Linked DNA regions of Homo sapiens: region 2 is linked to region 1. Evidence: fine-mapped expression QTL. Tissue or cell type: whole blood. Region 1 holds a variant in brackets; the other region holds the start of a gene. All regions are shown on one strand. Distances are from middle to middle.

The links. PIP is the estimated chance that this variant, and not a neighbour inherited with it, causes the effect.
Region 2: STAP1 starts here. The variant in region 1 is fine-mapped to the expression of STAP1 in whole blood (TOPMed, PIP above 0.99).

What each region holds. Positions count from the first base shown.
Region 1 is chr4:67,588,296-67,596,406 of GRCh38, reverse strand. It overlaps STAP1 (signal transducing adaptor family member 1), which reads right to left. Exons shown (of 9, transcript NM_012108.4): 7 at 5,454-5,523; 8 at 3,051-3,147. Among named protein-coding and RNA genes, the nearest start is that of STAP1, 34 kb to the right of the region's middle. The variant C/T (reference allele first, on the strand shown) is at 4,251.
Region 2 is chr4:67,555,489-67,563,599 of GRCh38, reverse strand. STAP1 (signal transducing adaptor family member 1) reads right to left here and starts at 4,873. Exons shown (of 9, transcript NM_012108.4): 1 at 4,671-4,873. The coding sequence starts at 4,790.

The DNA of each region.
Region 1 (8,111 bases):
CATTTTCACACTGCTATAAAGATACTACCTGAGACTAGGTAATTTATCAAAGAAAGAGGTTTAACTGACTCACAGTTGTGCATGGCTACAGAAGCCTCAGGAAACTTACAATCATGACAGAAGGTGAAGGGGAAGCAAGACACGTCTTCACAAGGTGGCAGGAAAGAGAGAGCACAGGGAAAATGGCCACTTTAAAACCATCAGATCTCATGAGAACTCCCTCAGTATCAGGAGAACAGCATGGGGCAAACCGGCCCCATGATCCAATTGCCTCCTACCAGGTCCCTACCTCAACATTTGGGGATTACGATTCGAGATGAGATTCGGGTGGGAAAACAGCCAAACCATATCACTACCAATGAACAATGGAATTCAAATGTTACAGAATATCATTTACCAGCAACAAAAATTTAAATACCTATAAATCAAAATGTGTGCCAATGCTGTATGCTGAAACAAAGTACTATGAAAGAAATCAAGGACAGCCCAAATGTACCAATATATTGCATTCTTCAACTGGAAGACTCAATATTATGATGTCAGTTCTTCCTGAACTAATCAACAGATTCGACATAATCCAGTCAAAGTCTCAGGAGGATTGTTCTCTGGATGGCAACAGGATGATTCTAAAATTTAGAATGAAAGGCAAAGAAACTAGACTAGTCCAAACGATTTTGAAAAAGAAAAGAGCAAAGAACAAACTAATCCTCCTAATTTCAAGAATTACTACGAAGTTATAGTAATAGTAAGTGTGGCAAAAGGGTAGGAACATATATCATTGGAAATTAATCCGTACAAAAATGGTCAACAGATTTTTACAAATGTTGCAAAGACAATTCAATGGAGAAGCATTTATTTTTATTTTTACTTTTTAGAGAAAGGGTCTCACTCTTGCCCTTTCACATTGTGCATTGACACAGTCATAGTGCACTGCAACCTTGAACTTCTGGCTGCCTCACCCTCCCAAGTAGCTAGGACTACAGGCATGTGCTACCATACCCAGCATTTTTTTTTTTTTTTTTTTTTTTTTTTTTGTAGAAACGAAGTCTCCCTATGTTGCCCAGGATGCTCTCAAAGTGATCCTCCTGCCTTGTCCTCCCAAAGTGCTGGGATTATAGGTGTGGGCTGCCCTGTTCAGTGGGATAATCTTTTTAAACAAATGGGGCTGGAACAATTACCCATCTAAATGCAACTAAATGAACCTTGACACATCCCTCCCAGTTTAAAAATAATTCAAAATGTATCATAGATCTAAATGTGAAACATGAAATCACAGCACTTCTAAAAGAAAACAGGAAAATAGTCTTTGTGATTTTAGGTTAGGCAGAGTTCTCAGGTATAACACCAAAGTACAATCTACAGAAGCAAAATTTAAAACTTCTGCTCTCCTAAAGACACTGTTAAAAAAATGAAAAGACAAATCACCCACTAAGAAAATACTTCCCAATCACACACATGCACACACACAAAAAGCTTGTATCGGTTCAGAGCTCTCAAAACAAGCATGAAAGAAAAAACAACCCAATAAAAATATGGGCAAAAGATTTAAATAGATACTTTCCCAGATAAAATATATAATGGCAAATAACATATAAAAAGATGCTCAACATTATTATTCAGTAGGGTTATATTTTAAGTGACAAGTTTAAAAATTAGACAATGTAAAAAGAACATCAAAGATGAGAGTAAGAGAAATTCAGGAACCAATAATTTAGATGACAGAGAGTAAAAAACTGAGGGAAGACATTGTAGACATTTTTAAATATTTGATGGCCTTTTAAGTCGTATTGTTTCAAAGCCAGAAATTGGATTAATATGTAGAAGTTGAAGGAATGCTTCAGACTCAATATCAAGGAAGAATTCTCTAATATGAGAACTGTCCAGAAGTGAACTGTGCTGCTTCAAAAATCAAATTTAAGCCCTCTTACATTCACAATTTACAAACAAGCTGAAGGGGTCATATCCTAGAGATGTTTCCTGTACTGAATGTGCAGGTGAGTTCTAAACAGATAAGATACTATAATTTTCTAAAGTTCCTTCAGATCCTGAGAGTCTGTGGTTTTGGTTACTCTTATTATTTAGCATCACAATATTCATAATCATGTTTTAAGAACTTGGACTTTTAAACTTGCTATCCTTTTAATTAATAAGACTATCCAGATATGCCCCAATGCAGATAGCCAAATAAGGTTGCTTTCCCCCATAATCTGTAGAAAAAGAGACTTGTTTTGATAACTAAAATCCACACAAGCTGGAGATATTTTCTCTCTCCTGCTTACAGTTTGCCAGTGACCATGTGTACCAGGAACTGTTGCATAAGATAGAGAGAGACTATTACATTCAGCCTGGCTTGCTCTGCCAGAAGTTGGATTGCAAAGAGAGCCAGTTTCAAGGGTGTGTAAACTGTGCAGTTGCATAGGGTCTCATGCTCGGTTTGATGGTTTGCTATAACTGTTTTTGAAATTCTTAATTTATGAACAAGGGGCTGGCAAATTCTGTAGCTGGTCCTAGCTACAATCTTTATCTGTAATTCCTCACCACCCACTCATTCCTTGTTATTTTGCAATCTGACTTCTGCCTTCATAGTGGAATACAACTTCTCTCTCTCAAGTCATCTATTGGCTAATCACCAGTTTTCATCGTCTCTTCTTAATCTTCATTCATTTTATCCTGTATTACGCATCTAACGTTGTTGACAGACTATCCCTTTAAATTCCATTTGGTTTCCATTAACTTGTATGATTATGGTTTCCTCTTACCTCTGAATTTGTTAGATAAAGCTGAGTAGAATGATAGAATGAAGTTAATAGTAATACTACATACCTCAGGGTTTTCCATTCCCTAAAATGCACCCATACTCTGTTCATAATACATATTGGTACTTTCCTATTTTCACAGACTGAGTGACAAAATGATTTCCAAATGGATAAATTTAAAGACTGAACTACAGTTCCTGCCTGGCTGGTACTATCAATCATATGCAGAGTTTTGGGGATTTTGTTTTGTTTTGTTTTGTTTCCCTTAACATAGCAATGAAGTGAAAAACATACCAGTGTTTTCATCAGTTGAACATATAAATGGTCTTAAATTTCCTCGAGTCTCCTTCACAAAATAATCAATGACACTGAAAAGGTTTGGGAGTGTTACCTGTATTAATAGAGAGTGAGAGAAAACTCAGCATCACCTGCATAAGTATAGAGTAAGAGAAGGCTCAACTGGAATCTAATGGAGATTACTGTCATTACTTCACTTCAATGGCTTACTGTATGACCATAGTTTTACCTATCCCTGTGTCTTATTTATCCTTTTTAATTGACCATGTGTCCATTCTCTGTTGAGGAATTACCACCTTTCCCATTGAATACAATCTGGTAGACAATAGTTAGGTACCTTGCTCTCCCTCAATTAAAGCATAAGAATGTAAGCCAAGTGTGGTGGCTCACACCTGTAATCCCAGCACTTTGGGAAGTCCAGGTGGGAAGATCATTTGAGACCAGGAGTTTCAGACCAGCCTGAGCAACATAGCGAGATCCTGTCTCTACGAAAATTGAAAAAATTAGCTAGGTGTGGTAGCTTACACCTGTAGTGCCAGCTGCTCAGGAGGCTAAGGCAGGAGGATTCCTTGAGTCCAGGAGTTCGAGGCTGCATGAGTTGTGATAGTGCCACTGCACCCCAGCCTGGGTGACAGGGTAAGACCCTGTCCCTTAAAAAATGAGGGGAGCAAAAAATGTGACTCAAGTTAGCTAGAAAATGCTTTCTTTCTGAAATTTGAACTTGAGTAGAAGAACAAAGAAGGATCCAGTTTCCTAATCAGATGGTTCTTAGCACAAGTAACTGCGTCCTAGTCCCTGAAGGTTTGCTACCCTTCCAGTCATTCTATGTTCTTATAATAAATTTATTTTTTCTTAAGTTAGCTGTAGTTGGTTTCTTATGCTTTAAAGCAAATAACCTTTAAAACCAGAGAATTTAAGCATTTTAGTATTTTATTGTAACAGGATAATTTGCCGGTCTAGGAGTAGATAAAATGTGTCTCTACCCCTAAACTAATATTTTTATACAAATGAAATCAGAATAAATATACCAGATAACCTTGAAGAGGAAAAAGAATTCCTGAGCCAGGCGCAGTGGTACACACCTGTGGTTCCCGCTACTCGGGAGGCTGAAGTAGGAGGATCGCTTGAGCCCAGGAGTTTCAGGCTGGCACTATGATTGTGCCTGTGAACAGCCACTGTGCTCAAGCCTGGGCAACA[C/T]AGCAAGACCCCTGTCTCTAAAAAAAAAAATCACAAAAATACAACCTTACTGAGGGGTTGAGGAGTATGGTTGGGGAGGGTGAAAAATGAAAGAATAATCCAGGCTGTTAGTTTTCCTTACACTGTAGACTGTATGAGCTAATGACAGAAATGAGCCCCAGTTTACCCAGTTACAAAGATGACACATTATTCTTCCTTGTCCATTGCTTGTAGTCACTTAGTTATTTGGATTATCCTTTAGCAATCTAGTTTTCTGCCTTCTTTATTGAATTTTATTTTAAAAGTCTAGTCAGGAATGGATCTGATAACTGAGAAGCTTTGGGAGGCACTTATGGCAAAGATGTAAGTGTGCTCTATGAATCAGCAGCTACCTTGCTCTCTAAGAATTATGACCAAAATATAAAAAATTCAACCACACTGTTCCTTTTTCTACTTGATCAACACAATGGACCTGGAGAAGCAGAGGAACTAGGTAAATATAAATATCTTCAAGACCCACCAGTTCTATTTAAGATATCCAGAGACAACTTTCCTGACTCAATCTTCCCACTACTGCAGCCTAAAATCACAGAGCTATATTCTCTTTTTCAGCATCCTGGAATGTAGGCCACATCACCACATTCTCATTGGTTCAGAACAGTGTAAATACCAATTATCTCACCTGTATAAAAGGCATAACAATATCTACCTCAGGGTAATGATAACAATTACATTGGATGATATATGTCAAGTGCTTAGCTATATCATTAGCCCCATGGTAAGTCAGCTTGGGTGGGAGAAGAGTTCAAGACAAATAAGAAATGCTTTCTTCACTACTATGTTGCTATTAAGAGAGGATTTCTGAACTTCAGCAAGACAGGTATTAGAGGATTAGGCATTTACAGATTTCTTCCCATTAGAAATAAACATATTTGAAGATTTATAATTGGAGAATGTTTAACAAAAGTATCTTTCTTTCTCTGAATTTTTTCCACTTTTCTTTCTCTGCAAACCTTGAGAAATTTGCAGAAAAAGAAAAGTGGAAAGAATTTTTAGAAGCAAATTATATTTTACTCTGCCTCACCACCTGTTCCTGAATCTCACTTTTCACCTTGTATATCTGCCACATTCAGGGCTCCTTAACTTGGCTGCTTTTTGCCAGCACTAGGAGGCTATAAGGAATCGGGAGGAAGTTCATCAACAACAACAAAAATAGTTACTTACAGGTTTTTCCAGTTCAATAGTGTAGTTTTGTCCTACGCTCATCACTTTGTAGTGCTTGATTCTTGGAATGCTACAATGAAACAAATGGTTAGTCTCCATTTTATTATACAATTGGGTAAATGCAAACTAAAGTAAATATAAAATATCACCTGTATAATCAACCTATGTTGTCATGACTATAGTTTGGCAAAAAAAAAAAAAAAAAAAATCCTTCGTGGTTTTTTATTTTCTGTTTACCTGGTTTGCAGAGTGTCTTTTTGTGGGGGCTACTCACTAGGGATATAGGTAATCTGGGTCATTGAGTGGGTGAATTAGAAAGAATAAACAGGAAAAAAGGAATCAAGAATTAAAAATCTTTCAGGCAGAAATAATTCTTTTAATGTCAGTAACCTAGAAAGTAAACAACATAATAAAATTCTATGTAGGTATATAAAATCAAATATATATTCTCCATATTGAGAGAAGTAGAAAGAATTATTAAAAGTACATTGCTTTCTACCCTACATTGTCACCAATCCAACCAGAAACCCCTCAATAGCTGTTATTCATATTAGCTCATATACCACCCTGGATATCCACTAACTTTGGGGCTGACTTGGAGATATGGAAAATACTGGGTCTTAGGCACTATATGAACATATAGATGATAATGTAAGTACATTACATGAATCGTATTGTCTTCCTCTTCTATAGTCACATAGCACTCAAAATTATTACCACTCAAATACAGGGTATTTTATTGATTATGAACTGCTTATGAACAAGAGGCATATCCTATTCATCACTGTATTCTAGCATTAGGCACAGAATAAATATTTATAAAGTTGAGTTTTTAAAATATTAGGAGCTGGATGAGTGGGATGGCTCAGGCCTGTAATCCCAGAACTTTTGAGAGGCCAAGGCATGAGGATGACTTGAGCCCAGGAGTTAGAGACCAGACTGGGCAACATAATGAGACCCCATCTCTACAAAAAAATTCAAAAAATTAGCCAGGCATGGTGGCATGCATATGTGGTCCCAGCTACTCAGGTGTTAGGTGGGCGAATCATTGCATCCAGGAGATTGAGGCTGCAGTGAGCTATGATGGTGCCGCTGCATTCTAGCCTGGGCAACAGAATGAGACCCTGTCTCAAAAAAAAAAAAATTAGGATCCCCCACCTCATAATGTTATCTGCTAGAACTAAGCAAATTTACACTGAGATCAGAAGTCACTATCCTTGTCAGTTAGTTTTGAACCAGAGTATGTTTGTCTTGAATTCCCTTGATTTGTACGGCAAGCATGTTAGGATGAAAACTTTTTCTAGTGTTGACAAATGAACAGCATTTATTACATTGTCATTTGCTTGAATGACACACTAATTAAGCATTTGTCCTATGTACAGAAGCTGTCTAAAACAAAAGTGTTCAGCAGGTTAAGCTAGGCACAGGGTCTTTCTACCTTCTTTTTTTAAATCGCTTCTCCTTCCGTTTTCATTTAGGACTGAAACTGAAGTCTTCTATTCAGGGGACTCTTCTCATTCACCATTATATCCAAATCACCTCTCAATTGGACATCACAATGGAAACAGCTCATAAATTCCAATAACCTACTTTCAAAACATGGGATAAAACCCAACCAACCCTTTTCCTTCCTAAAAGAAAACATTCCTTAACGCTGAAACTTCAGGAATCAGTTACAAGTTGGTGAAGGAAGCATTTTTGGACACAGAAGGTCATACAGCACCTTTTCAGGGTGGTTATACCTGGCTTTATCTTTATCACATCATAATAAGATCTTTGTAATCACACAGTTACTTTTGAAAACTCTACAATTTCAATTACAATTCCTGTATTCCTATTAAATAAGGGATTGCTGTTCGTTGGAAGACTGATAGAAAACTTGGTTCAAATTCTGATTGTCATGTGGGTTCTCTGAACCTCCATTTTCTTCATCTATAAATGGAGATGGTGCCTTGCCTCAAGGGGCTGCTGTGAGTTAACCTTTGCAAAGCCCTTAGTACAGTGTCTGGCACATTTAAGCATTCAGTAAATTATAACCATTTTTACTACTTCTTAAATGTATTGTTTTAATGTAGTAGTTTCTGTGAGTCTCATCCTCTTCATTTGTAAAACATGGAAAATACTGTCTGTCTCAAAGTTTTTATTGCGCCTGAAGGAAATGTTTGCCAGTACTCAACATAGCACCCACAAATGGTAACCTATAAGGAGAACAACGATTGTTGTTGTTTTTAAAAGCCATCATATTGGCCGGGCGCAGTGGTTCACGCCTGTAATCCCAGCACTTTGGGAGGCTGAGGCAGGCAGATCACGAGGTCAGGAGATCGAGACCATCCTGGCTAACACGGTGAAACCCCGTCTCTCCTAAAAATACAAAAAATTAGCCGGGCGTGGTGGTGGGCACCTGTAGTCCCAGCTACTCGGGAGGCTGAGGCAGGAGAATGGCGTGAACCCGGGAGGCGGAGATGGCAGTGAGCCGAGCTCGCACCACTGTACTCCAGCCTGTGAGACAGAGCGAGGCCCCGTCTCAAAAAAAACAAAAACAAAAAACAACAACAACAACAAAAAAAAGACATCATATCATCATCATCATCATCATCATCGTCGTCGTCGTCTATGGCAAAGCTGTGGGAGGAAAAGTGGCAAAGGTCAACAAGGTAT
Region 2 (8,111 bases), 33 kb after region 1:
TCCCGAGTACCTGAGAATACAGGGTGTGCCACCACGCCTGGCTAATTTTTTGATTTTGTAGAAATGGGGTTTCGCTATATTGCCTAGGCTGATCTCCAACTCCTGGCCTCAAGCAATCCTCCTGCCTTGGCCTCCATAAGTGCTGGGATTACAGGGATGAGCCAGCATGCCTCACCTACTCACTCATTTGTGAAGTGAATAAAATAATTTCTACCCAGAAGAGTTACTGTAAGGATCACAGTGACAGAACACTAAGAGCCTAGAATGGGATCCATTATATGTTATACCTCAAAAGGTTGCATTCATTATTATATAGTCCACTTAGTCATTGGAGCAACCTATTCAGCTATGCAAGAGAGTAATTATTCTTTTTAGAAAGGAGAGAACAGATTTAAAAATGTGAAGGAATCGCCCAAATTCTAGAATTGGACTGATACTTTTATCTCTTGACTTCCCAGTGCTCTTTTCTCATTAATACAACTAGCAAAAATGAATTAACTAGCAAAAATGAATTACAATGCAAGCTCCAGTTAAGTTTCTCTTCCTCTGTCCCCAATAAAAAGCTCTCATTCTTTGTTTTTGTGCGCAAGTAAAGTACATTTACCTAAGGAAGAATGTTGTATAGTGGTCTCCAAAATGGGATGCATAAATTCCAAAGGTGTGCAAGATGATCCATTGGGAGAGAAAATTTTAGAATATTTAATTATATTTTATTTCATATTTCTTAATTCATTTTTTATATATCAAATAATTTACATGGATTAATAGTACGGGAATATATATATTTATAATTTCCAAATGAATTAATATTCTTTTTTTGTTGTTTTTGAGATGGAGTCTCCCTCTGTTGCCCAGGTTGGAGTGCAATGGCGCAATCTCCGCTCCCTGCAAGCTCCGCCTCCTGGGTTCACGCCATTCTCCTGCTTCAGCCTCCTGAGTAGTTGGGACTACAGGCGCCCACCACCTCGCCCGGCTAATTTTTTTTTTTTTTTTTTTTTAGTAGAGACAGGGTTTCACCTTGTTAGCCAGGATGGTCTCAATCTTCTGACCTCGTGATCCGCCCGCCTCGGCCTCCCAAAGTGCTGGGATTACAGGCGTGAGCCACCACGCCCGGCTGAATTAATATTCTTATATTAGGGATCTGTGCTCAAAATGTTTTCCTGAAAGGAGTGTGTTATTTTAAAATTTGGAGATTACTGCCATAGAGAACTGTGTGTGAGCACAACTTAGACAGCCCTAAAAAATTTCCTTTTTTTTTGAGACGGAGTTTCGCTCTGTCACCCAGGCTGGAGTGCAGTGGCACGATCTTGACTCACTGCAACCTCCGCCTCCCAGATTCAAGCGATTCTCCTGCCTCAGCCTTCCGAATAGCTGGGACCGGGCCCGGCCCACACACACTGTTTTTTTTTTTTACTTTAGCACATCACAGATTGAAGAAATTATGAGACGTTGCCCAAACTATCTCTTATTTTCTTTCTTTTTCTTTTCTTTCTTTCTCTCTTTCTTTCTTTTTTTTTTTTTTTTTTTTTTTGACAGAGTCTCGCTCTATTGCCAGGCTGGAGTGCAGTGGCGCGATCTCGGATCACTGCAACCTCTGACTCCCAGGTTCAAGTGATTCTCCTGCCTCAGCCTCCCGAGTAGCTGGGACCACAGGTGCGTGCCACCATGCCCTGCTAATTTTTGTATTTTTAGTAGAGACGGGGTTTCGCCATGTTGAACAGGTTGGTCTCCATTTCCTGACCTCGTGATCCGCCCACCTGGGCCTCCCAGAGTGCTGGGATTACATGCATGAGCCACCGCTCCCGGCCCACCCACACTCTCTCTTATTTTCAAACGGTCCCAGAAAAAATGAGAAATTTTCCCATTTGTAAGAACTGCGATGCCAATGGTATTCCACTGTGGCATTTAACAGCTTTGATAATAAACACATCTTCCTGGTTAATTCAGAATCCTAGTGCTGTGGCTTAAATAAATCTTCCCACATTATCTTTTCCATAAAGATTATGTGTTTTTCATGGGTTCTTGACCTCAGATTTAGAAACCTTCTAGAATTGCATGCAAAATGGTATACGTTGTTACATTTTCCTGGGGAAAAGCTCTTTAAATACTTAAAAGTGCCCCACAAAAAATAGCTAAGAAGCACCTCTCAGCATTTCATGCCTTTATAGACCAGGTTACTCTTCAGTTATATTTTTTCTAGTTTAAATGTTCTGAATGACTTTGGCAGAGACCCAACTTTACATTCTGCAGAGCCTCTCACCTTCCTCTAGCCAATCAGCTCCAAAGATTACTTGGCTATATACCTTTGGCTCACCTTCTGTTCAAAGATTCCCTGGCACTTTGCTGCCAATTGCTTGGAAATTCCACTTATTTTGCTTAGATTTTTCTCATAGCTTCTATTTTCAAGTACTCTAATTATCACCATGCTCACTCTCCTTGGAGTCATATTACTTGCAGACCTCAAACTAATTTTAGTACCTGAATAAGAGTATGATAAGTGATGAAAGGGTAAGAGAATGAATCTAACCTTTAGTGTGAGCCAGGTGTTTTACATATGCTATCCCTTTAATCCCTGAAACCACCACATAAGTAGGTATTATTGTCATCCTCTTGCTCTCTTCTCCCTGACATACAAGTAAAAGGTACTTAGTGGTCTAACTCAGAGGCCCATGCCTGTAATTCTAGCACATTGGGAGGCCAAGGTGGGCAGGTTGCTTGAGCCCAGGAGTTTGAGACCAACCTGAACAACGTGATGAAACCCTGTCTCTATAAACAATACAAACGTTAGCCGGGTGTGGTATGCGCTTGTAGTCCCAGCTACTCAGGAGGCTGAGGCAGGAGAATCACCGGAGCCGGGGATGTCAAGGCTGCATGACTAGTGATTGCACCATTGCACTCCAGCTTGGGCAACAGAGGAGACACTGTCACACACACACACACACACACAGACACACACCCACACACACAAAGATACTTTACTATAAATTCAAATAGAAACACAAGTTAATTTCATTGGAAATATTTATGCCTATAGGTATTCATTCTGCTTCAAAGAATGCTTTCTAAGAGAAGGTAAAGAGTAGAAATTTGGTAAGGAAGACATCATTCCTACTATATTAAGCCTCTTGAAAATAAAATCTTTGTGTTTTTTTCCATATTCTCCAGAAATGAGTGATGCTTGGTGCATAGGAGGCACACAATAAATGTTGAGTGAATAAATTGATTGAACACCTACTGAATCCTAGAATGTACCTTAGGAGGCAAGTAGCAAGTAGTATACTCTCTATCTTATAGTTGAAACAGTCTCAAGGAGATTGAGTAACTTGCACAAGATCACAAGCTATAAGTGGCAAAACCATCAGATAAAGGACACTCTAAAATTCTTATTCTTTCTGCTAACCATACCAATGACATGTCTTCTTTAAGCATTTAAAAAAAACTGCTATCATAAACAGTTATTATAAATACCTTGGAAAACATTCAATGAACAACCTGATTTAAATTACTAATTAGAATTTTTTTTTCTCAACTTCCCTTTCCTGGCAAAGTGTGACTATGTGGCTTACCTGTGGTGACAAGATTGAATTTACATTAAAAGCATATAGGATCAATCTAAAAAATTCTAATATAACTGAAAGGTAATTATTTATGCATGTTTAACATCCATAACAGAATACAAATTACCATGTCTTTACTCTCAAATAGTAAATGATCTGATTATATATGTAAGAAATGTGAATATGCTATTATAGATTTTTCATATATATAATTTTTCCACAAGTATTCATAAATCCTCAGAAAATATATTTTAGCATCATTAAACATTTCTGATGGAATTTCTGAAAACCTTAAAATTTTTCTAGTTTTAGTCAGTATACAATTTCATAAAATTTGACCTAACTTAATGATTTTTTTATTTAATAACAGGCAATTTTGGGCTTATTTCTCTAATTAATTTCAAGTCATCCATAATTACTGTTTTAAAAGTAATGATTTTAACTAACTATAAGTTTTAATTATTACATTTAAAAATACAGAATGCTTCATGGATTTTCTTAGAGCAAAGGTATTTATGTAGCTTAGTGTACTTAATACCCACAGTAGTACCCCAAAAATTAAAAGTCACTATCTTGAATAGTATTTTAGAACACATAACTATATATAATGTTAAACAGTATGAACTTTGTCATTTTAACAATTTTTACAAAAGCCATTTTTAATAATTTGATCATTATAAACTTCAAATGACTCAGAACAGGAGCAGGTTTAATTTTAATCATGATATCATTTTATCTTAATGGTACATGTCATCATTGAAGCATAGCAATAAATTGTGGAGAAAATACAAGAAACATTTTATCTCCCAAGCCAAAATCTTTTGTGATATTTAAATAAATTCTTTGGAAATTTAGCTTATTGACTTTTTTATATTAGTGCCTTAATATTACAACCTCTGTTATTATACATATTATATATGTGTATACATACAGGTTTAAGCCAGACATTGTATTTAAATTATGAAAAATTGGAATCATTTTTCTGAGCTCAAAGAAGAGAAGATGATTTAATTTCAACAGAAACAAGGAGGTCTTAACACATCACATCACCATGAAATAAATATTAAATTAAAACAGAAGTCTTAGGTTTAACATTATCATCTATAGACTCACCCGGTATCCTGACCGCTTGATTAATAAAAAACCTTCAAAGTACAAAGGTAGAGCAGTAATCTTTAACCTTTCCTGGAAGATCCTGCGAGGGGCTGGTTTTGGGGGCTTCTTAGCCATCATACCCCTCTCTTTGGTGTGTGGTTTGGTTTCTCGTCTCAAACAAAATGAAATCTTCCTTCTGTGAGAGGAAAAGGCAACTGTTCAAAGAGGAAGTCCCAAATTGCTTTTTAACCACCAACACTACCACCAACAGGACACACACACACACAGACGCACACACACACACACACACTTTTTTTTCCATTACTTTTTGTGAGGTAAGAAAGAACAGGTGTAGACTGACTTTCAGAGGGCAATCTCTGGGTAATCCACATGTGCTTAGATTTAAAGCGCAAAATAAACAGAAGATTAACATCACCAGAAGATGAAAGAAACAGGTGTAGAGATTGTGAACTTTAGGGGAGATATCAAGAACACAGTTATTCTTTCTATCTTTGTTTTTGTTTATTGGTGTCCATTTTTATTTGCAGAAGACATGACTTGAATAAACTCAGCTTCATTAAAAATTACTTCATAGAATAATTTTATTAGTACTACTTCTGTTGGTTAAATATTTTAGGGTCAAGTTTTGTGTAAATAAAAAAAATAGTTGTATCTCATGCTCATTTGATGCTTCACTAAATATAAACCACAATTATGGGAACACGGAATATGGAATTTTTTTCTTTTTTCTTTCTTTCTTTTTTTTTTTTTTTTGCCAGTAGATATTCCAAGTACATGAGTTCCCAATGAATATTTAGTGCTATGTTTTGAATGTGTCCTCCAAAACTTATGTGTTAGAAACTTAATCCCCAATGCAACAGTGTTTAGAAATGGGACTTTTAGAAGGTGATTAAGTCATGAGGCCTCTGCCCTCATGAATGAATGAATTAATTAATGCTGTGGGAGTGGGTTTCTTTCTCTTTTTTCAGAGGCAGGGTCTTGCTCTGTTGCCCAGGCTGGAATACACTGGTGCAATCACAGCTCACTGCAGCCTTGACCTCTCAGGCTCAAACAATCCTCACACATCAGCCTCCTAAGTAGCTGGGACTACAAGGCACGCGCCACCACTCCTAGCTAACTTTTTCATTTTTTGTATAGACAGTATCTCCCTATGTTGCCCAGGTTGGTCTCAAACTCTTGGGCTCAAGCGATTCTCCTGCTGTGGCCTCCCAAAGTGCTGGGATTACATGTGTGAGCCATTGCACCTGGCCTGGAAGTGGGTTTTTTATAAAATCAAGTTTGGCACTTTCTCACATGCTATCATCCTCTCTTGCTCTTCTATCTTCTGCCATGGAATGATGCTGCATGAAGGTCCTCATCAGATGCTGGCCATGTTCTTTGACTTCCAGACTCCAGAACCATGAGCGAAATACATTTCTGTTCATTATAAATTACCAGTCTGTGGCATTCTGTTACAGCAACACAAAGGAGTCTAAGATATTTGGCAAAAAAATATCTGGCAGAGAAAGCTGTAAGTTTTCAAACTTTTATTTTGTTCTTTTGTGCTTTCTGAGCTGCAGACCATTGATACTATGATTCATGGATGGACTTCCCACAGTTATCTAGTGAGATTTATAAAGCTATACTGGGGCCAAAGTGCACTCAATGGTTGCATGTAGGAAATGGTCCTTAAGAGATTGGATTTGGCGTAGCACAGTGCAGGAAATGATGGGAGAAAAGAATACTAGAAGGAATTTTGATTTGTCTTACAGGGGTCCTAAGAATTTCTACCATTGCCTATTTCACACTCAGTATTTCAGAACTACTCTAGATTTAGAACAGCCTGGGCCCAGTGAGACCAGCCTATTATTAGAAATCAAAGCAAGTCAGGAGTCTTCAGTCTGATTCTCCTTTCCTAATGGAGAGACTGCATGGTTTTCTCCACCAGTATGGGTCCCACTGATCCTGCAGCTGTAGATATGGGATGACAAATTGTCTACAAAGTGAGGTAGAACAATACGGACTGATTATCAGTAAGTTAGAGAAGAGTGTTCAGATGTATTATCAAAATGAAAACAGCTCAAGACAGAAATAGGGAGTTGAAGATCCAAAATGACTGCTTTGCTTTTGTAAGTTTAGACCTGCTTCTTGCTACCCAACCTTCAAATAATAAAATATAAGTCCAACTGAATTTTTTGAGGCAAAAACCATAACTATTTTTTAGTTTCGGTATACTAAGAAAGTGACTTGAATAACAGGAAAACCTCCTGATTGAATATATGACCTAATCCACTTTCTTGGCAGCTGTTAGTTGTTGTAATACAGGGGGGAAGTGAAAGGAGGGATTAAGAATTGAAAAATGAAAAGAAGCAAGGATAAAGAAAGAATGCTGGGAATCATCAGTGATTACGCACTGACTTTATGGTCAGAAAGTTTCATAGGTGAGAGAAAATAATACCTCTAAAAAAATGTAAAGGGGATTTTTTGTTGTTGTTAAATAAGCACTTAGTTTTTTTTTTGCCTTTAAAATATAAGCAACAATTTAAAAACAGCTAATCAGACACAGTAAGTTACTTTGGTCTGCTGATTTGTTCGTCAAATTCATTCTTAATATACCAAGAATCAAATTATATCTCCCTGAAAAAGACTACAAAATGCAAAAATCTTGCTTAAACAATATTAACAAGTTAGTCCTGTCTGCAATGACTAGTGTCATTGCACCACTGCACCATTACAATGGAAATCCTCTTACAGATACCTCAAGTCTTAGGCAGTGAAGAATAAATTTGTAGGTAAGGAAATATAGTAGAAAATATGTTTGGACATAGGGCATAAACTAATTTTGCTACTAACCAGCTCTTGAGACCTTGAACAAACCACTTGACTTCTCTGGTATCATAGCTTCCTCACCTATACAAGGAGGCGATGGACTACATGACTTATTGTTTGAAGAGCTGCAAAAGGCTTTTAAGTAGTCTCCTAGTTTCCACTCTTTTTCTTCTTTGATTCATTTAATATTCAACCTAATCAAGATATTCCCCTACTGAAAAGACTTTAAAGGATTCTCATTGCTTTTGAGATTCCTTTTTAAATATTTTTTATTGAACACTAAATACTTATTGAATACCAACAATGGGCTCAAGCATGGCACGTTGGTCCTTTATAGCAGGGCCCCTTTTAAATAATAACTCCTCAAAATACCCTTTGCTCTGGTAATTTCATTTAGTCTCAGTTGCCTGAATACCCTATGATCTTCCCTGTCTCCTCATACCTTTTCAGTCACTGTACTCTGCTTAGATGCCCCTCCTTCTCTTTGTTTATATGGTAATGTCCTACTCGTCCTTCAAGACCCAGGCTGAATCTATCCTTAATTCTGAACATCTCCTAATTTCCTGAAGCTTTCTTCACCCCCACAAAAAAAAAAGTTATTACTCTCATTTCTGCTTTCCCAAAGCACTT